3 linked regions of the Homo sapiens genome follow. The protein of the gene in region 2 interacts with the protein of the main gene of each other region in a biochemical or structural test. Each region holds a gene or a part of one and is shown on either strand. Other genes may lie near its edges.

The links. Proteins that work in one complex are often made in the same cells at the same time.
Region 1: of the proteins of EIF2S1 (region 2) and EIF2AK3, one has a biochemical effect on the other in vitro, tested with the Homo sapiens proteins (one study listed by BioGRID).
Region 3: the proteins of EIF2S1 (region 2) and OTUD3 form a complex in vitro, tested with the Homo sapiens proteins (one study listed by BioGRID).

Annotation. Positions count from the first base shown.
Region 1 is NC_000002.12:88,624,465-88,632,338, forward strand, and holds the start of EIF2AK3 (eukaryotic translation initiation factor 2-alpha kinase 3 isoform 1 precursor), read right to left. Parts: upstream 3,001-7,874; 5' UTR 2,811-3,000; coding exon 2,503-2,810; intron 466-2,502; exon of another isoform or gene 282-465; intron 1-281. UniProt on the Homo sapiens protein: Metabolic-stress sensing protein kinase that phosphorylates the alpha subunit of eukaryotic translation initiation factor 2 (EIF2S1/eIF-2-alpha) in response to various stress, such as unfolded protein response (UPR).
Region 2 is NC_000014.9:67,369,820-67,377,652, forward strand, and holds part of EIF2S1 (eukaryotic translation initiation factor 2 subunit 1), read left to right. Parts: intron 1-4,648; coding exon 4,649-4,728; intron 4,729-6,619; coding exon 6,620-6,771; intron 6,772-7,833. UniProt on the Homo sapiens protein: Member of the eIF2 complex that functions in the early steps of protein synthesis by forming a ternary complex with GTP and initiator tRNA. This complex binds to a 40S ribosomal subunit, followed by mRNA binding to form a 43S pre-initiation complex (43S PIC).
Region 3 is NC_000001.11:19,899,395-19,906,394, reverse strand, and holds part of OTUD3 (OTU domain-containing protein 3), read right to left. Parts: intron 2,129-7,000; coding exon 1,997-2,128; intron 1,505-1,996; coding exon 1,408-1,504; intron 1-1,407.

The DNA of each region.
Region 1 (7,874 bases), on a different chromosome or scaffold from region 2:
CTCTTTAAGTGTGCTCATCGCCAAATCTTTCTTCCCAGTCCTCCTCCTGTACCTCCAACCTAGCCAGCTGTATTTCTGTCTCCTTTGCTGGCTCATCTTCCTCCCTAAAATAAAAGGCATTTCCTGAGGTTTTCTCATGAGCTTTCCCTTTCCCACAGCTTCACCTATTCATATTTATGCTGCCTTCTCACTGGCTCTAGTCACTCATTTCCACCCGCCTACCTCCCTCTGGATGTCCTGCCTGCACCTCCGAGTCACATGTCCAACACCAAACCCCTTACCTTTTCTTCCCTGCTCCCTTAAACCTCTTTTGTCAACTTCTGGCCACGCAGTCTCAATCTCTGGACAAGGGTACCAAGAAAGGAAGAATGCATTCACTTGCCAGGAACCTAGATTTTGCATCAAATATCTCAACTCTGTCCCCTCTGTCCTATACCACTTTACACTAAACCTCTCATCTGAACTGCTATAACACTCTCCTTTTGGTATTCTTAACTCAAGTTTTCAGTACACACTATTGCTAGAGAAACATTCCTTAGGTGTAATTTTGATCAAGCCTGGCACTCAGGATACTCTACCCAACATTTCTCAAACTTTAACGTGCATGTGAATCACACGGTGATCTTGTTAAAATGCAGATACTCTCATTCAGGGAGTGTGGGGTGGTGCCCCACTCCGGAGTTTTAACATACTCCCAAGTGACAATGATGCTATTAGCATCAGACTATATGCATATACAGTCGGCTCTAACCTATTTTTTCTATCCTCATCTACTTCTCCCTGCCTAGCATACATATGTGCATGTCTATATCGCTTACGTACACACACACACACACACACACACACACACACACACACACACAGACATACACAGAGACAAAATGTTTTCCAAACATAATCTCCGGCCTCTGTGCCTCTTGCTGTTTCCTCAAGTCCAGTGACTTTCCATTACAATTTTACCCATTTTTCAGGAACCAACTCATTCTGCCACAACCTTCTCTTATCTTCTTACCTACCCTCACTCCCATACCTCACCTAGTAGAACACCACAAAAACCTTGGGACATCCCTGACACTGGCACTGTTTCTAGTCTGTAATGTTGTTATAGGTCTTCTCGTTTCATCCGTACTGTTAGACTGCACACTCTCCTGGAAGGCAGGAACTACCTGCCTAACCTCTGCCACCCAGGGCATCCTTGGGCTCTTGTTAACCAGTAAGTACCTGTTGAAGTGGATTTGAATTCTAAGAAAAAGAAAACGTCTCAACTCTACTTCATGTAATTCATTTTGAGCAGGAGCTTCAGAAATTTATGATAAACAAAAACACTCTTCCAGGAAAACTGACTCATTAGCAAACCTAAGAAAACTTTGTTTTATATATATATATTTACAAATGTTTATATATTCAAATGGTGCCTAGAGAATTTTAGTACTTATCCTATTTATAGTAGTCTCCAGATATATAGATCAAAGTTCTAATATTAATTTAAAATTAAATCTAACTTGTTACGATCTAGTAATGACTATAAGTCTAAAATATGTTCCAATCCAGAGCCCAGCCTTCCCTAGTTTAATTTACTTAATGCTCCCTTTAGCACTCCATTTATAAAATGGGACATCACTTTCTCCACGGGTGTGATAAGATTGGCTGTCCCCCAAATTTACTGTTAACATGCCTTACATTGTGTCTAGACTTTGAAAAGTGCTTTAAAACAATCACCTTGAAGTAACATTTTTTGAATGCTGAGAAACTCAAAGAAAACCCTATATTAAATGTTTATACAGTAAACCCCTTATTCAAGAACCTAACCATGGCTCTTAGGTTCAAGAACCAATATTCAAGAATCTGACTATAGCTCTTAAACTTTAGCGTGCAAGAATTATCCGGCGTGCTTGTTAAACACGCAGATGCCAGGCTCTTACCCAGGGAATGTCTCATTCAGTAAAACTGGGGTAGGGCCTAGAAAACTGTAGATTTCACCAGCAACCCCAGGTGATTCGGATGCAGGTGTTCCGCAGATCTCAATTAGACACTGATCTCAATCCTTGTCCGGGGGCACTACAGAGTTGTGTTTGAAAGAAAATGCAGACGTCTTTTGCTAAAGTCCTTTCTCAAAACAGCTGTCACGCCAGCACAGACAGGAGGTGATGTGCGTAAGGAAAAAGAGGGAAAGGTTCCTTGGAAGAGAATCAATGCCCGAAAACAATGAAAGAGGGGAAGTGGCGTTTCTTTGCAACCCTGGAATTCCATTCTCCCGCACCTGCGAGGATGCTGCTCTGACCCGTCGGCCAGCACCAGGCCCTCGGGAGCCGAGCCCAGGCAGGTCGCTGGCCGGGGGATGGGAGGGCGTCGTGGCCCCGCGCTCGTCCCCAGGTCGCCAGCTGCCCTCCGCAGCCGAGGGAAGACGCCCGCCCGGGTCCCGGATCTCCGCCCCCCTACACCGCATCCTCCGCGGCTCGCGCGCGTAAACAAGTTGCCTCCCCCGGGTCGGCAGCCCCTCACCTGCCGCGCGGTCGCAACTCTGTCTCATCGTCTGGTTCCGGACCCCGAGGCTCCTGCTCTCCCGCGGCTGCCGGCAGCGCCTCAGCGTCCTCCACAGTCACCTCGGCCGCAGCCACGGCGCCCGCCGCCGGTACTCGCGTCGCTGAGGTGGGAGCAGCGGCCGCCCCGAGGCCGAACGCCGCCTCCGCCGTCGGCGCTGGGAGGCCACGGGCGCGCCCCGCGGCCACCGTCCTTGCCGCGAGCCCCAGCAGCAGCAGCAGCAGCAGCAGCGCCCGTACCAGCAGCCCCGGGCTGATGGCGCGCTCCATCAGCGTCCCGCCCCGCGCGCAGGCATGGAGGCGCAGCCACTGACGCCTGCCTCTCCCGCCGCTTGGAGCTCCCAAGAAGGCAAGGACGTGCTAGGGACCCTACTGCCGCCCCGACGGCCTGGACAGCCAGCCGTGTTCCCCTGGCCACGTCTCAGCCCGGCCTCTGCCGCTGCCACCTGAGTGACAGCCTATCTCGGACATCGCCCATTGAGCAAACTTTCCGCGCGTTTGCTCTCTCATTGGCTGCGGCCGCTGCCACTCCATGTTCCCAGGCTGGCCTTGTTGGGGAAGGTGGACTTTCCCTGGTGGTCAACATCGCACCTACCAATCAAATCGTAATTTCGTCGTTCGAGGCCCGTCCCTCTTCCGGACGCAATTACCAATGAGAAATGCCCTTCCCCGACGTCTTTTTACCTGATTGGTGCGCTCATCAGTTCCCGGAATACCTTTCCTACAACAGATTGGCCATCGCGGTGGTTGGCCTCGCCCCACAAAGCGAGGCGCTGGAGAAGACTTGAAGATCATTGGTGGAAGTGGATGTCCCTCAAAGGTCTGCGCTAACTGCCTCTTGATTGGTTGGAAGCGGCACTTACTACGTGGCGGATTCTGACTGTGAAGAGGACTGTCCCAAGTGAAGAGTGGGAGGCAAGTGCCTTGTGACCGGGAGGAGGTCGACCTTAAAGGAGCTGGTATTGTAGCTCTTCTAAAGCCTAGTCTACTTAGGAAGGCAAAAGCGAAGCAGCAAGAAGTGGCCACAGAAGCCGTGTGGTCCCTAGAAGTAGAAGGGTAAGGAGGATGCAGGAGATGGTCCTACTTGTGGCCGCAACGGGGCTCAGAAGTCCGCTTGTTAGAGATGGCAGTGACCTGTGACAATCCAGTCTGCCCGACACGCCTCCCGCCTCCTTAGGAACGGGAAGGAGCCCCGGCCCAGTGCACTGACGTAGTTAGCCTAAGATCACGTAGCTGGTTGGTCACAGAATCATGACTTTAATTCATGTCTTCTGACTCTGACCTGGCACGCTTTGTACCTCACCAAAGACAGTGATGAAATTGCAAAAGGGCAGAGTGGAGAAGACTGGAATGTTCAGCCAAGGCATTTGAACTTTTAATGCTGCAAGTCAAGACTTCCTGAAGATTTTTGAGCAGATGAGTGAAGTGATAAGAAAATGCATCTTCAGCAGTGACAGCATCAACGAGGAGGAGACTGGCCGGGAGGCTATTACCCGCATCAAAACCAGTGAACATTAAAAAAAATTTTTTTTTTAGAGAGAGGGTCTTGCTCTTTTGCCCAGGCTGGAGTGCAGTGGCTTGACCATAGTTCTCTATAACCTTGAATTCCTGCGTTCAAGCGATCTTCCTTCCTCAGCTTCCGGAGTAGCTGGGACTACAGATGCGTGCCACCATGCCAGGCCAATTTTTAATTTTGTTTTGTAAAGATGGGGTTTCTGTGTTGCCCAGGTTGGTCTCAAATTCCTGGCCTCAAGCCATCCTCCCGCCTCAGCCTCCCAAAGTGCTGCAATTTACGGGCATTAGCCACCGCACCTGGTCCAAAACCGGTGAAGATTTGTTAAGGTGTTGGCAATATGGGTATACCTAGATTATCCTTCATCTGCTAAAAACATGCTCTAATCTCTCCCCAGCCCAAAACAAACAAGAAACCTCTCTTCCCCTTCCAGCTCCTACCACGTGTCTTTGCTCCTCTGTATGGCAAAACTCAAGTGTTCAAAATTCCTTATCTTCAATTCCTCTTCTCCCATTCCCAAGTACACTACAGTCAGGCATTCACACCACCAAAACTGCTCTCGCTGAGGCCACCAGTGCTGTATTCAAAGGATAATCTTTGTTTTATCAGCTGTATTTGATCCAGCAACTCAAGTTTTTCCTGTCTAGAACACCTTTCACCGGTCTTCTTGCTTCTCCATAGTGCTGGTCGTAACCCTCAAAAGGTCCCCCAGTTCACTCAGGATAAAAGTCAAGTCCTTAAAATAGACTACAGGGTGCTACAGCATCTGGTTCCTATGGCTTTTCTGATCTCATTTCATACTGTCTTTGCTCACTCCACTGGGCCAATCAAGACCCACCTGGGGGGTTTTCCTTTGTTGTTTTGCCTGCCTAGGAAACTTCCCAGGTATATGAGTTTGCTAGAGTTGCCCTAACAAATACCACAGACCAGGTGGCCTGAACAAAACTAGTTTATTTTCTCGAAGTTCTGGAGGCTAGAAGTCCAAGATCAAGGTGGGATTCTGAGGCCTCTCTCCTTGGCTTGCCGATGACAGCCCTCTTACTTCCTCTTCCCTCTGATGTCTCTTCCTATTCTTCTAACACCAGTCAGATTGGAGTGTGGGGCTACCTTTAACAGCCTCATTTTAACTTAATCACTGCTTTAAAGATCTTATCTCCAAATACAGTATAGTTATATTCTGAAGCACTAAAGGTTGGGACTTCAACATGTAAATTTTGGAGGGACACAATTTAGCACATAATACCCAGGTACCCACAAGATATGTTCCCTCACTTTATTTGAGGCTTTGCTAATCCCAGTGAAGTCCCTCCTCACTACCTTATTTAAAATTAAAACCTCCACCACCTTCCTTCCTTTATTTCTCTCCTGCTTTATTTCTGCTTAGCCGATACATACATTACAAATATGTAAATACTGTAATTTACATATTTGTTTTGTTTATTGTCTGCTGTGTTTCCTTCCACTTGCATGTAAATTCTGTGAAGATTTGCTCATTGATGTATTCGAAGACATAAAACAGTGCAAAGTGTTTAGCAAGCATTTAATAAATGTTTGTTGAATGAATGAATGAATGAATGAATACCTGAGGACAGAAGGAAAGAGACAACTGGAAAGGAAGAGACTGCAGTTGCTGTAGACAGAGGGGGTTGATTACGAGAGCAAGATTCCAGAGTATCTGGAGGAAAAGGGGCAGCTCTGCCTTCCATGTTGAAAGTAGAGCGTAGGAGGTATTCCTAGAGAGTAAGTTATTTTGAAAAGTAGAGAAAATAGATGAGCGAACTCAAACCAATTGACCATTATCTACTCAACAAAATAGGAGATAAAATTGCCCACCTAAAAGGGATTATACTAGTTGGTATGAGGAAGGTGTCAGAAAATTAACATAAGATGAAAAATGATTGTTAACTACCTGTTTGAAATTAGTGTATATATTTTAGTGGGCCTGGTCTTCATGGTTTTGTAATTTTTTCAAAAAATGATCATGGCATGAACAAGGCTATTAATCTGAACTAATGAATTAGGAGTCTACTTGCCACCTGTAAATACTGTGGAAGTTTTATTTATTCATTTAACATTCAGGGATTCCACATGACCACCTGCAAATAATGAGAATAAAGATATGAACAAAATAGATGTGGTTCCCGCCCTTCTGAAGGTTAACACCTATCTAGTTAGGGAGACAGACATTAACAATCACACATATATTATTAAAACTGAGATAAGTGCTATGATGAAAAAGGCGCGGGCAGAAGAGCACAGTGGTGGAAAATGCCAGTAAGGAGAGTCAAGCTTTATACTTGGGAACAAAACACAAATTTTCCATTTTGGAAAAAAAGCCTGAGTCGAAGTGTGCTGACTGGGAAAATAAATTAAGGAGAGAAAAGAGAGTCTACCTGCTTTAGGACAGCATGGAGCTTCACAGTGACTTTGTGGGAACTCTGGAACCTGGGTGCCTCAGGGAAATGTAAGAAAGTGGGGACCGGGCATGAGAGCTGGCCCGTGAGGCTGGGCCAGGAAAAGAAGCTGGTGCTCAGGTACCCTGAGCCAGGGTTGCCCAAAACAACCAAGATTCTACAACTGAGTGTGGCCCAAAAAATCAGCAAAATAGGTCTGAGATTTAGAAACAGTGAGTTCAATCCCTTAACAGAGAGAGACTGCATCTGTTGAAATGATATTTGATTGTGAATAACAAAAACGTTGCCATATAGTGGGTGAAGCAAGAAGTGGGTTTTTTTTTTTTACTGACACCACAGCTCTACAGTGATGTTTTATTTAAACTTATGCTCCTTCTGTTTCTCCATGCTTCATGGGTGACTTTGTTCCTTTTGCCTGTCGTCTCACTGTTTTGGGATGGCAACTCCAGTATCATTTCTTTATTATAGGTAGGACAAAGAGGAATGACAAAAGGCATGTAACCACCTGAATTTGCCCCTATCAAAGAGCTCTCCAGGAAGCACCACCAAGGAATTTTCACTGACATTTCCCAGGCCAGACCATGCTGCTGCTAAGCAAAATGAGGATTCTGCTAGTGAGGATGAAAGGAAGAATGTGTAATCAGTTTTCTTGAAGTATAATACATGTACAATAAACTGAACCTATTGGAAATATACATTTGGATGAGTTTTGACAGATGTATATACCACAGTCAAGATACAGAACATTCCCATCACTCCAAGAGATTCTTTGTGTCCCTTTGTGGTCAATCCCTCCTACACGAGGCCCCTAGGTAACCGCTGATCTGTTTTCCATCACAATAGATTAGTCTGCATATTCTAGCATCTTTAATAAATGCAGTCATACAGTATGTACTTTTGTGTCTTACTTTTTTCACTCCATATAATGTTTTTAAATTTATTCATGTTGTTGAATGTAGCAATACTTAGTTCCTTTTTACTGCTGAGTAGTACTCTGCTTTATATGTTCCATGTTTCTTTATCCATTTACTTGTTGGAGTACATTTGGTATATTTTCAATTTTTGGCGATTACACATAAAGCTACTATGAGAACATTTATGTACGTACAGGTCTTTTTGTAGATGTAGGTTTTTATTTCTCTTGGGTAAATACCTAGATGTGGAATAACTCGCTCATATAGTAGATGGATGTTTAACTTTATAAGAATCTGCCAAGCATTTTCACAAAGTGATGTACCATTTTATACCCCCACCAGTGGTGCACGAGAGTTCAAGTTGTTCTATATCCTCACCAACATTTGGTAATTGTCTTTTTAATTCTAACTATTCTAGTAGGTATGTGATGCCATTTCATTGTAGCTTTGGTTTGCATATCCCTGACGACTAGTGATTTTGAACATCTTTTAA
Region 2 (7,833 bases):
AAGGAAAGGTAAACTCAAAGTTGCTGAGACCAGCTCTGTTGGGGAGACCCTAACCCAGAGGCGCTAGAGGAATTAAAGACACACACACACAAATATAGGGGTGTGAAGTGGGAAATCAGGGGTCTCACAGCCTTCAGAGCTGAGAGCCCCGAACAGAGATTTACCCACATATTTATTAACAGCAAACCAGTCATTAGCATTGTTTCTATAGATACTAAATTAACTAAAAGTATCCCTTATGGGAAATGAAGGGATGGGCCGAATTAATTGCAGCAGGAACACGTCCTTAAGACACAGATCACTCATGCTTTTGTTTGTGGCTTAAGAATGCCTTTAAGCAGTTTTCTGCCCTGGGCGGGCCAGGTGTTCCTTGCCCTCATTCCTGTAAACCCACAACCTTCCAGCTTGGGCGTTAGGACCATTATGGACATGTCGCAGTGCTGCAGAGATTTTGTTTATGGCCAGTCTTGGGGCCAGTTTATGGCTAGATTTTAGGGGGCTTTCTCCCAACACAAAGTAAGTAGAAGAAAAGAAATAATAAGGATAAGATAATCGGTGAAAATAGAGTACCAGAAAATCAGAGAACAGTATCAAAGTTAAAAACTTGTTTTTTGTTTTTTTAAAAAAGAGCAAAATTGATAAACCCCTAGTTAGGCTGATGAAGAAAAGGAAATAACACAAATTACCAATCTGGAATGAGAATGGGGCTATCACTGCAGATGCTACAGACATTAAAAGGCTAATAAGGGAATATCATTACCAATTTTATGCCAATCATCTCAACAAATCAGGTGAAATTAGTGAATTCCTTGCAAAATTTTACTTACTGAAACTGACCAATATAAAATAGAAATTTTGAGTGTCCTATATGTTAGAGAAATTGAATTTATTGTAAAAAATCTTTTCATCAAGAAAATTCGGTCCTGACCAGCACAGTGGTTCATGTCTGTAATTCCAGCACTTTGGGAGGTTGAGGTGGGCAGATTGCTTGAGCCCAGGAGTTCAAGACCAGCCTGGAAACATGACGAAACCTCATCTCTACAGAAAGTAGAAAAATTACCCAGGCATGGTGTTGTGCACCTCTAGTCAGTTCCAGCTACTAGAGAAGCTGAGGTTGGAGGATTGCTTGAGGCCAGGAGAACAAGTCTGCAGTAAGCCGAGGTCATGCCACTACACTCCAGCCTGGGTGACTAAGACCCTGTCTCAAAAAAAAGGAAAACTCTAGGCCAGATGGTTAAATTGATGAGTTGTATCAGACATTTAAGGCAGAAATAAGATGAGTCATAATAAAATTTCAGAAAGTTAAGGAGGTAGGCCAGGCACGGTGGCTCACACTTATAATTCCAGCAATTTCGGATGCTGAGACAGGAGGATCGCTTGAGGTCAGGATTTCAAGACCAGCCTGGCAATATAGGGAGACCCCATCTCTATAAAAATTTTAAAAAATTAGCTGGGTGTGGTGGTGTGTACCTGTAAAGTAGTTCCAGCTACTTGGGAGGCTGAGGTGGGAGGACGGCTTGAGCCCAGGAGTTTGAGGCTGTAGTGAGCTGTGATCACACTGCTGTATTACAGCCTGAGCAACAGAGCAAGACTGTCTCCCACCAAAAAAAAAAAAGTTAAGGAGGCGGGAACACTTTCGAAATACAGTCATGTGGTGCTTAATGACAAAGATACATTCTGAAAAATGTCTTATCATGCAAATTTCATAGAGTGTGCTGCTTACATAGACCTTATAGCCTATACACACATAGGTTGTTTAGTATACTCTATTATTCCTAGGCTACAAACCTGTACAGCATGTTACTATACTGATTAGGTAGTTGTAACACAATGGTAAATATTTGTGTACCTAAACACAGAAAAGATACAGTAAAAATACAGTATTATAATCTTAACAGCACTGCTGCTATATATGCAATCTATTGTTTACTGAAATGTTATGCAGTGCATGACTAATTTTATGAGGCCATCATAACCCTGATAAGAAAACCCAACAAAGACATGTTTTTGTAAAAAAGCAAATTACTGACCAAATATGTGATTAGCATAGATAAAACAATTAATATGTTTTTCAAATCCAACAATGTATAAAAAGGATAATAAAGCATGACCAAGTGGAGTGTATGGAATGCCAGTTTGGTTTAACAGTCATAACTTTATGTTGGCTGGGCATGGTGGCTGAGGCCTGTAATCTCAGCACTTTGGGAGGCCTAGGTGGGGGGATCACTTGAGCCCAGGAGTTCGAGACCAGCCTGGGCAACATAGCAGGACCTCACCTCTTTTGTTATCTCTCACTTCTTTTTATTTAAAAAAAAAATTAAAAAATTTATGTGTGCTTTTATATGATCAGTTAATTAACAAAAGTACAAAGGCAGCTGATCAAAGAAAAAATTATCTTTTTAACAAATGGTGCTGGGACAACTGGATGTCCATATGCAAAAAAGAACCTCAATTCAAACACCTCACCTTATACAAAAGTTAGCTTAAAATGAATCATAGATGTAAACTTCTAAGTACCTCTAGAAGAAAACAGGAATCTTTCTGACCTTGGATTAGGCAAAGATTTCTTAGATAGCACACTAAAAGCGTTATCCATGAAAGGAAAAATTGATTAATTGGACCTTATCAAAATTAAGAACTTATGTTCTTTAAAGACACTATAAAGAGAATAAAAAGACAAACCAGCATATTTTAAAAACTCTTGAACAACCTAAAAAATCCTGTATCTAGGCTGGGAGCGGTGGCTCACGCCTGTTATCCCAGCACTTTGGGAGGCCAAGGTGGGCAGATCATGAGGTCAGGAGATTGAGACTATCCTGGCCAACATGGTGAAACCCCGTCTCTACTAAAATATAAAAAATTAGCGGGCATAGTGGTGCGTGCCTGTAGTCCCAGCTACTCAAGAGGCTGAGGCAGGAGAATCACTTGAACCCAGGAGGCAGAGGTTGCAGTGAGCGGAGATTGCCCCACTGCACTCCAGCCTGGCGACAGAGCAAGACTCCATCTCAAAAAAAAAAACAAAAAACAAACAAAAAAACCCTGTATCTAAACCATCAATTTTTAAAGGAGCGAAAGTTTTGAATAGACACTTTGCCAGAGAAGATAATTGGATAGCAAATATGCACATGAAAAGATGTTGAACATCATTAGTCATTAGGAAAATGCAAATAAAAACCACAGTGAGATGCCACTGCACAATCAATAGATTGACTTTTTAAAAATCAATTGAGAGACATGGAGCAGTTCTAACTGCTCCACATTGCTCATGGGAATGCAGAGTGCCACATTCACTTTGGGAAAGTTTGGCAGATAAAATTAACATGTACTTAATATATAACCCAGCTGTGCCATTTCTAGGAAAATTTATGTTCACAGAGAAACTTGTGTCCAGTTTTTAGTGGCTTCAGGGGTGATGGAACTTGATTTTGGTGGTGGTTAAATGACTGTTCTTTTTTTTAAACACAAAGAACTTAACACTAAAAGTGGTGAATTTTACTATATGTAAGTCATACAATTTTTAATGAAAAAGAATGCTCAGAATCTGAAATAAAATCAGTGTATATGAACAGAATATAGGAGGAAAACTACAACCAATTTAATAGATGTGAAAGGGCATTTGACAAAATTTGTCACCCATTCATAATAAGTCAGCAAACAAGAACTAAAAGGGAATTTCCTAATCTGATAAAGAGTGTCTAGAAAAACACCACAGACATGCTGTCCTCCAGTATTGAGAACAAGACATTCACTCTCACCACTGTTACTCAGCATTGTACTGGAAGTCATTGCCAGGCACAGGTTTGTAGGTTTCAGCCATTTTTGGCTATTTGACGTTGACAAGTTACTTAACCTTTCATGGGTTTTAGTTTCTTCAGGTTAAAAAGACTGGGGGGCGCTGTGGGAAAGAGAGTGATAATCTACCATGCAGGATTGTTGTGAGGGTTCAAGAAGATGTTTAAGCACCTAACATAGTTACTTGTATATGGTAGTCATACAGTAGATTAGATAGTTTTAATTTGTTCAGTGTGTGTGTGTGTGTGTGTGTGTGTGTGTGTCTTCTGTGACGATAGCCTCTTTCCTTAAACTAAATGAACATCTTAGTGAATTTTCCTATTCTGGAGAAGGAAAAGGAAGAAATAGGGGAAAGATAGGCATTTGACTACCTTTCATTTGGATAATTGAAAATTATTAGTTCTCTCCAGTAAGGTAATGGAATATATATAATTACCTGATAATAAAAATTTATTTCTGAAAACAATTCAGAATCTCTCATCTTGTACAGATTGAGTATCCCTTATCCCCAAATCCAAAATGCTCCAAAATCTGAAACTTTTGAGCACCAACATGACACTCAAAGGAAATGTTCATTGGAGCATTTCAGATTTTGGATTTTCAGATTCGGGATGCTCTAACTAGTAAATACATTGCAAATATTCCAAAATCTGAAATCCAAAACACTTTTGGTCCCAAGCATTTCTGATGAGGGATACTCAGCCTTGTAATACTTATGCAGTATTTTGTTGATAGGATTTTAGTAGGAAATAATTATAAGTATGCCAATCAAACACTTAATTTGGTCTTCAAAGCTGGTTACAATAGTACAGTGGCATCTGGACAGAGATGATTTTTTCACAATTTTTTTGTACAGGATATATTGATTTGTCAAAAAGAAGAGTTTCTCCAGAGGAAGCAATCAAATGTGAAGACAAATTCACAAAATCCAAAACTGTAAGTTGATCTTTGAGTCAAATTAGTCCACTATCTGTGTGTTTAATAAATAATTTGAAATCTTAATTTCATACTGCTACTACCTTAAAGTATTGCTTATGATCTAATATTCTCAAATTAGTACTAGAAGTGTTTTGAAGCCGTTTTAGGTTAAATTAACTGTGGGTGACTTCAACTGCTTTAACTTGTTTACAGTTGGAATGCCTCATAAAATACGGGGTTTTTTTGTTTGTTTAAATAGAAATGAGGTCTTTCTATTTTGTCCAGGTTGGTCTCAGACCCTGAGCTTCAAGTGATCCTTGAGCCTCAGCCCTCCAAAGTGCTGGGATTACAGAAGTGAGCCAATGCACTTGGCCAAAATACAGTTCTTGATTTTCAACCCTGTTCTGGGATGAGGGTAACGGAGACAACCAGCTGTTATATGTTAAGAATGAACAGGGGTTTATAAAATGTCTGTGAATCCAGGAAAGCAAGGCAGAGGCCTGTTACTAGTTTTGGTTTTTTTCCCCCTCCACTAGCGTGTTAGGATTATTTCTTTTTGCATTCTTATTTTTGCTATTACTTCCTGCTTGTCATCCACAGTAAGCAGCAGCAAAGCAAAGATAGCCATTTAATTTCTTCTGTCAGTATTTCTCTTTTCTCAGGTCCTGTTTAAGTTATCCTTCATCCTCTACATCCTCAGTTCTGTGTGTGTGTGTGTGTGTGTGTGTGTGTGTGTGTGTGTGTGTGTGTGTGTCACAAAGTCTTTCCCAGACTGGAGTGTAGTGGCGCAATCTCAACTTACTGCAACCACCTCCTCCTGGGCTCAAGCGATCCTCTCGCCTCTGCCTCCCGGAATGTTTGAGATTACAGGCGTAAGCCAGTGTGCCCAGCCTATCCTCAGTTCTTAGTGGTACTGTTTGTATTGCTTCTGTTTTCTTTGCCCTTCTCTGGTGTCTGTTCTTTTCTGCCATGAGTGTTTCTGTCCTCAAGATAAAATATCAAAAAAAAAAAAAAGTTTCAATGAAGAGATTTTAAAAAATCTTGCTTAATCCCAGTAAGAGAGAAAATAAAGGTCTAAAAGCCATCAGTTACCCAAATCATTTCCTTTGTTTTACTGATGTATTTACAGTTATGCAGTGTGGTTTACACATTTGAAAACACTGTCAGTAAAATATCTTCTTAATAAACTCTAGGACCTTACCACTTAGAATGTAGTCTCTAAACTAGCAGCATTGACATCACCTGTTTTTTTAGAAATACAGACTCTCAGGTCCTACTAACTTTTGAGAAGCACTTTTCTGGGAAAATTTCATATTTTTTTGTCTCCTTAGGATATTGTTAAAATGAGTGTGTTAATAGATCTTATTGAGATGTTAAAATGGAAGAGTTATTCAGTGTCAGTACCTTTTCTCACTCAATTTTTATGTGTAACTATGATGAAGACCTTAATACTTTTTGTCTACACCCTGTTAATTTTAGGAGGTAAGAAAAAGTTTGGCAGGTGGGTAAGATGACAGAAAAAAAATTTTTTTTATCGTGATTCTCTCCTCAGGGAGTAATAATAACAACTTGTATTTGTATAGCCGTTTTCCATTTATAGTGTGTGGTTTCTATATATTTGATCTATGCGAGCACTCTGTAGTAAGGAGAGATGCTAGTTTCTTCTTTTTCCAGAGGAGGAAACAAGTTCAGAGATACTGTGTTACTGTCAAGACTTGATCCAGGTCTTAGGACCCTAAATTGTATACTATCTCTACTTTTTATACCCACTTAAAGTGAGTATTTCCCTATGGAGATCTTTTATTGTTAAGGAATTATTGTAGCCAAATTATGTTATTTACTAAAATGTAAAAACATTTTTTATAAATCTCTTATCTTTGAATTGTTGAGCTTTTCATTTTATTTCTAGGTTTATAGCATTCTTCGTCATGTTGCTGAGGTGTTAGAATACACCAAGGATGAGCAGCTGGAAAGCCTATTCCAGAGGACTGCCTGGGTCTTTGATGACAAGTACAAGAGACCTGGATATGGTGCCTATGATGCATTTAAGCATGCAGTCTCGTAAGAATACCTTCTTGACTCTCCTTCTACCTTGATATCACAACTCTTGGCCTGATATTTAACAGCATAGCATCCATGTATAAAATACTTGCCAAATTTAGATTAAAATATTTTGTATTGGCCAGTAAATGGGCCAATCCTATATGGTCAAGTCTGTGTAGTTTTATGTATCATAGTTATGTAGATTCATAAACCATATGGTTTATCTCACACATTTTCCTTTCCTAGTTATTGTCCTAAGTGGCTATGGGACTAAAGAGCATGTCTCACCAAAAACTATAACCTCTTGTTTTCTCTACCTCTTTTGACTCTCCTTTGACTTTCAGCCCACACCACTTTAGCCAGTCTTCCATGTAGCCTTAGCCTGGGCCTTACTATCACCGGGATTTGCTCTGCCACTAAAATCTTTAATTCACACTTTCTGTTCTTTTGCCCCTGCCTCCTATTCATCTAGCTCCCAGTTGGTCCTATTATTTGTCATCTTAATTCTGTATGTTAGGATCTGATTCCAAACCTTTTTTCTCCCTGTCTTTTCGCCATTTCCTGCCTTTTCTCTCTTATCCAACATAGGCACACCATGATACATCATTTTAACGACTTTGTTGCCATTATTGTGAGCTTTTGCCTTGTTTTTCCTTCCATCCATCCAGCCTTGGATCAATGTTCCTGCCTTCTCTGTACTTGTAGACTGCTGGGTGCTACTAGGAAAAATCAGTCTTGCAGGTTGGTCCACTGCATATTCATGGTCTCCAGCCTCAGCTGTTCCACATTCTCTCTGCTCCTGGTCAGTTCTTCAGTAGTGGCTATTTTAGAGCTTTTCCACGTTCTTCCTCAGAAAACCACTCTATCCCTGCTCCCTGCCTCTTGGCTGGTATGCTCACTACCTATTTTATTTTATAAAGAAAATAGAAACCATTGCACAAGAACTACTTTTCCACTGTCTCAACAAACTTACATATCTCTGTCCCACCTGTCATTTCTTCCTATGCTGCTGTCACTGGAATTTGTGTCCTAATTGCTCTCAAACTAGTCTTGCCACCTATGCCCAGCTGCTGCTCAGAG
Region 3 (7,000 bases), on a different chromosome or scaffold from region 2:
GAGAGTTACACAGGGTGATGACTGTATTAATGATTCCAAAATTACCTGGGTCCCTACTTCAGTCATAAGGGAAGTAAGTTTCCTTGAGACAAATTCGAATGTCAAGACAGTGGGAAACATAGGAAGAAAAAGTTGGTAAAAGTTGGAAGATAAATTCTAAAATAACCCACTGACCAGCCTTTTGATCAGCTTCCAACCAGCAGAGTGCTTTTTAGATAAATTATGTCTTAACATGAATTTTTATGGGAAAATCTTTCATTTGCACCCAAAACCCAGAAAAGAAACAGGCTCTAAAGCTGTGCTGTCCAATGTATTAGCCACCAGCTATATGTGGCCATTTACATTTAAATTAAAATTAAACAACATTTAAAACGTAGCTCTCCAGTCTCATTGCTCATGTGGCAGGTACACACTATACTGAACAGCACAGATCACTGGAGGGTGCTGTTTAAAGTCACAAAGACCAAGTTACTTACAGATTTCTAAAAGTACAGCCAATACATAGTGGATAATAAAATACCTCATCACATGGAGCACTATGATGCCAGAAACAGTATCTGACACGTAACATCTGGCAATCAGTATTTATTGATATCATTTTAAATAAATGACTTGAGAAATTAATAAGATGTTACATCCTTTTCTCTTTTTTTTGAGAGGGAGTCTCGCTCTGTTGCCCAGGCTGGAGTGCAATGGTGCGATCTTAGCTCACTGTAACCACCACCTCCCAGGTTCAAGCAATTCTCCTGCCTCAGCCTCCTGAGTAGCTGGGATTACAGGCACCCGCCACCACACCCAGCTAATTTTTGTATTTTTAGTAGAGACGGGGTTTCACCATGTTCGTCAGGCTGGTCTCAAACTCCTGACCTCGTGATCCACCTGCCTCAGCCTCCCAAAGTGCTGGGATTACAGGTGTGAGCCACCACACCCAGCCGTTACATCTCTTTTCTTTCCTCTGAGTCACAAAATTATACTTGGTTCAAATTAAAAAAAAAAAATCAAAATTATCACAAGCTAATACAAATCTAAATATTTCCACCAGAAAAACAAGGTATTTCTCTCTCCATTTTATTTTGGTTATCATTTTGGTCTTCTAAGGCCATCTTATTTCTAAACAGGCTAATTCTTCCCTGATGCGTCCCCCAGCACCCTGTACTCCCAACCCCATTATGTACTATCGCACCAGTTTATCTGTCTCCACTATCCACCCTCTACCCCTGAACTATACTCCCCCTGAAGCAGAGACAGGACCTAGTAAAAAATGTCTACGTACAGAACGTGCTCAATAAACAACTCCTAAATGAATGACAGAACAGTTACCACCTGTGACTTGGTTAAAAAATAAATATTTGGAAAATTACCAACACAACCATTTTGAAGATCTATAAATATTAGTCATGGACTTACTATTTCTCTTCCCTTGGTTCATCCGAAGCACGGCAATTATTGCAGATTCAATATTATAATTTTCAGCTTCCAGGTTCTGGACTATTAAATTAAAATCCTATCCAAGAAACAAACAAACAAAAAAACCACTTCAAAACTCTGGGTATATTTTTCTGCCTAGCTCTACTTCAATAATCATAAACATAAAGATGTAATAGTGAGAATTAACACAAGGTTTCAGGACCTTTTCCATTTAGAAAAATGTCGATTTCCAATAAGGTTGGTCCCTTGAAATAACCGTCTAATGTACACTTATAAATGAATTCCCTCTATAAAACTGCATTTGTACTACTGTAAACACTAGTCAGGAAAAATTAAATCCACATACTTCCTAAGACCTTTGAGCAGTACTGGGTGAAGTCTAGCAAACAACAGGGAAATTAATAAACAGCTCTCATTAAGCCACATACACTAATCAAACTACAAATCTCATGGGCCTATTTTGGCCCACAAGGTGCTGATATGCTAGAGAGGTGCTACGAAACTAAGAAGTAAGCTAGGCACAGCAATGCTTGCTTCTAAATCATTCCTGCAAGACAGAAATACTAACTGAACATCCAGTTGCATTACAAACTTTCTGGACAGCATCCTCTACTTCATCTCTCAGGTCGTCTTCAGAGTCCATTCCCTTTGTCTTGATCTTTTCTCTTTTATTTGATTCATCTTGATGAAGCATCTGAAACTAAAGGAAACAAGTAATAATCAGGGAACTATGTTGAGAATCAAACTATGTTCAGAATCTTTAACACAAGACACTCTAATCTGGAAAAATTCATATATATAGGGGAAAACCTTCTAGAAACAACCTTAAGAGAACAGCAATGACTAGGCTCCATTTTATCCACTCATTGTACTTTGAGTCACAACAGAGGAATTGAAAAGAAAGGCCCAAAAGACAGAATAACTGCTCAGTAAGAAAGGCATTCGCACTCCCATGTCTAAATGCCAACACTGGCAAATGACTGCTGCCTCTGACAGCACACAGTCACCTCAGCTGATTTTCAGAGCCGTGAGCTTAACAGAAAACGATCCTCTATACTCGCACCTGGTGAACTTTTGCACAAAAACGGTGCTGGTCTTGAAGAAACCTACATACAACTTCCCTCTGGTTCCCAAGCCTTATTTGATCATCAGCACGCTTAGAGGTACTGAAGCTCCCGTCCCAGCTGGACAGTCACGGATGAGCATGACTCATCTAACCTCAGGTACATACCACCACACCCAGGGAAACTTGTCAATCCAAATCCTAAAGCCACAAACAACAGTTCACTTGGGATCCATGAGACCTTTACAACCTGGGCCTTAAATCAGAAAAGCTAAAATCATCCCTCTGTAGATGCTCAACCACCTTCTTCTTCTGCTTCCCATTGATGCAGGGAGATAGGTAAATGGGCAAAGACAGTTCTATTTTTTGAATGTAAACATATAGTGGACTCCAGCAATGTACAGTATATTCCTCAGAATGTTAATACAAAACATTCTATTATAAAATTAAACCCTAAGAATTTGACAAAGTTACAGGAGTCTTTGAGCCGGTAGTTTCACAGTTTTGAAATTTAGCCAAAGGAAATAATATCAAATAGAGAAAAGATTTATGGGCCTGGTGCAGTGGCTCACACCTGTAATCCCAGCACTTTGGGAGGCTGATGGGGGTGGGTCACTTGACCTCAGGAGTTCAAAACCAGCCTGGGCAACAAAGTGACATCCCGTCTCTACAAAAAAAATACAAAAGAATTATTTGGACATGGTGGCATGCACCTGTAGTCCCAGCTATTCAGGAGGCTGAGCTGGGAGGATGGCTTGAGCCCAGGAGGTGGAGGTTGCAGTGAGCCGAGATCACACCACTGCATTCCAGCCTGGACAACAGAGCTAGACCTTGTCTCAAAAAAAAAAAAAAAAAAAAAAAAAGAGAAAAGATTCAGGTAAAAGTGCTAACAGTGTTACTTATAGTGGTGAATAACTGGAAACCACCCAAAGGCTTTATAGTATGGATATGGTTAAATAACCACTGTAAATCCACAGAATGATGTCTTCATTCCCACTAAAGGAAGAAACACAATAATCACTCCCCCCATTATTACTTAACAATATTTTGGAGGTAACAGCCAAAGTATTTAGCCAAAATAAATTTTAAGTATAAAATTAAAAAGAAAAAAGTAATCTGTCTTTGTAGATGATATAATTCTGTAACTGAAACAAGAGAATCAACAAAAAACTACTGCAAACCAAAAAAATTACAGCAAATCATATACCTGGGTAAGAATCTAGCATCTAGAATATATTAAAAAACTCTTACAACTCAAAAAGGCAGAACCCAATTAAAAAATAGGCAAAAGACTTGAATAGACATTTTTCCAAAGATATACAAATGGCCGAAAACCACATGAAAAGATGTTCAATGTCATTAGCTATTAAGAAAATGCAATTCAAAACTTTAAGATACTGGCCGGGCGTGGTGGCTCATGCCTGTAATCCCAGCACTTTGGGAGGCCGAGGTGGGTGGATCACGAGGTCAGGAGATCGAGACCATCCTGGCTAACACGATGAAACCCTGTCTCCACTAAAAACACAAAAATTTAGCTGGGCGTGGCGGTGGGTCCCTGTAGTCCCAGCTACTCGGGAGGCTGAGGCAGAAGAATGGCGTGAACCCGGGAGGCGGAGCTTGCCAGTGAGCCACGATCGTGCCGCTGCACTCCAGCCTGGGCGACAGAGCAAGACTCCGTCTCGAAAAAAAACTTTAAGATACTAACTAGGATGACCATTTAAGAAAAAAACATTTGTCAGAGAGGATGAAGAGAAAGCAGAGCCTTCATACATTACCGGTGGCAAGTAAAACAGTGCAGCTGCTGTGGAAAACCGTTTGGCAGTTCCTCAAAATGTTAAATTTAGGTTTATCATATGACCCAGCAATTCCACTCCGAGGTATATCCAAAAAGACTGAAAATAGGTATTTGTAAAAATACTGTACACATATACTCACAGCAGCACTATTCTCAATAGCCAAAAGGTGGGAACAACCTAAATGCTCATTAACAGATGAATGGGTGCACAAAAAATCATCTCTCCAAACAATGGAATATTATTCAGCCATAAAAAAGAATGAAGTACTGATACATGCTACACCATGAATGACTCTCAAAAACATTATACTGAGGGAAAGAAGCCACAAAGAAAAAGTCACATATAATTCCATTTACATAAAATGTCCAGAATAGGCAAATTCATAGAGAAGAAGGGCAGATTGGTGACTGCTAGGGGAGAGGGGGAATTGGGAGTCACTGCTTAATGGATATGAGGTTTTCTTTTGGGGTGATGAAAATATTTTGGGACTAGACAGAAGAAGTGGTTGTACAACAAACACTGCAGATGTACTGAGTACCACTGGACTATATATTTTTAAATGATTAATTTTATGTTATGTGAATTTTGCCTTAACTTTTAAAAAAAGAGGGGTTCTGTGGGATACCTATGTAATTAACATCTTGTTATTAACAGCTCTCACAGACAAATGATAACCAACTAGAAAACATAAAAGATCTCTTTACAATAGACACAAAAAACACAAAACACCTCCTAAGAATAAACTCAACAAAAAGTGGGCAAGATCTATATGAAGAAAATGTTCCTGTGGATCACAAAGTCAATTAAATAATAAAAGACTCAACATCAAAAAGATGTCAGCTTTTCCTTAAATTACTCTATTAATTTAATGAGATTCCAATTTTAAAAAACTCAATAGGGCCGGGCACGGTGGCTCACGCCTGTAACCCCAGCACTTTGGGAGACCAAGTTAAGCAGATCACTTGAGGTCAGGAGTTCAAGACCAGCCTGGCCAACACGGTGAAACCCCGTCTCTACTAAAAATACAAACATTAGCCAAGGGTAGTGGCGAGCGCCTGTAATCCCAGCTACTCGGGAGGCTGAGGCAGGAGAATCGCTTGAACCCGGGAGGCAGAGGTTGCACCACTGCACTCCAGCCTGGGCAACAGGGCAACAGAGCAAGACTCTGTCTCAAAAAAAAAAAAAAAAAAACAAAAAAAAAAACCTCAATAGGATTTCCTTTGAACTAGACACATTGATTCTAACATTCATTTTGTTTTTTTTAAAAAAGACAACATATAAGGAAACTTATAAAAAGAAAATTAATTATGAGTGAAAAATCCTACCAGATTTTAAAATATACCAACTAAAACAATGAGGCATCAACATGTGAACAGGGAGATCAGTGGACCAGAACCAAATGTCTAGGAATAGACCCAAATACATATGGGAATTTAGTATATGGAAAGAAAGTGGCATTTTAAATCAGTGGAGAAAAGATGTATAATTAATCAATGGTTTGGGTACAACTAGGTAATCACAAGGGAAATATAAAGTTGGATCCATAGCCTCCTACCCTTATTTCAATATAAATTTCAGATGAAGCCAAGATTTAATTTTTTTTTTAAGTCAAACTATGAGCTGGGTGCAGTAGCTTACATCTGTAATCTCAACACTTTGGGTGGTCGAGGCAGGAGGGTTGCTTGAGTCCAGGAGTTCGAGACCAGCCCGGGCAACAAAGTGAGACCCTGTCTCTACAAAAAATAAAAAATTAGCCAGGCATAGTGGTACACAGCTGTGGTCCCAGCTACTCAGGAGGATCGCTTGAGCCTGGGAGGTTGAGGCTGCAGTGAAACATGATCATAGCACTGCACTCCAGCCTGGGCGACAGAGTGAGACCCAGTCTCAAAAAATAAATAAATAAATAAAGTGAAACTATGAAAGTACTATTCTAAACTATGGGAGAATTCTTTTTAACCTCAGAGTGGGAAAGACTTTCCCAGTTATGACCCAAAATCCAAAGGGCATATAAGAAAATCGTAACAAATTTAACTATGTAAAAATCTAAAATTCTTTCATAGCAAAGACCACAGGAGAAAGAACAAAAAGACAAATGACAGAGTGCGAAAAACTATTTGCAACTCATATCACAGACAGAGGCTAATTTCCCTAATACATAAAAAGCTCCCCAAAATCATTAAGACAACTTAATAGGAAAAAAATGGAGAAAGAAAATGAATACCATTTACAAAAAATAGAAATATGTCTTAAACACAGGAAAAGATGCATAAATAAGAGAAATGCAAATTAAAACTAGGTTAAGTAAACAATTTTTCCCCTAACAATGAAAAGGATTTAAAAATTTGGTAACACTATGTTGACGAAGTGCACCGTGCAGGAAAAGAGCCACATATTGCAGGTGGGAGTTTAAACCGGTGAAATCTTGTTAGAACGTAATTTGACAATTCACTTATCAACATCCTCTGATGTGGCAAGGACCTTCTAGGAATGTGTCCCACAGATACATGAGTGAAATGAGGTACATAAAAGGTACTGCACATTGCTTATAATAGCAAAGGGTTAGAAACCACCTAAAAGTCCATCAGTAAGTGACTGGTCAAAAATATTATAATGCATCTACAGAACAGAACACTACGCAGCCTTTAAAAAGGATACAGGAAGTTCCTTATGTACTACCATGAATTAAATCCCAAGACATGTTAAATTTAAAAAG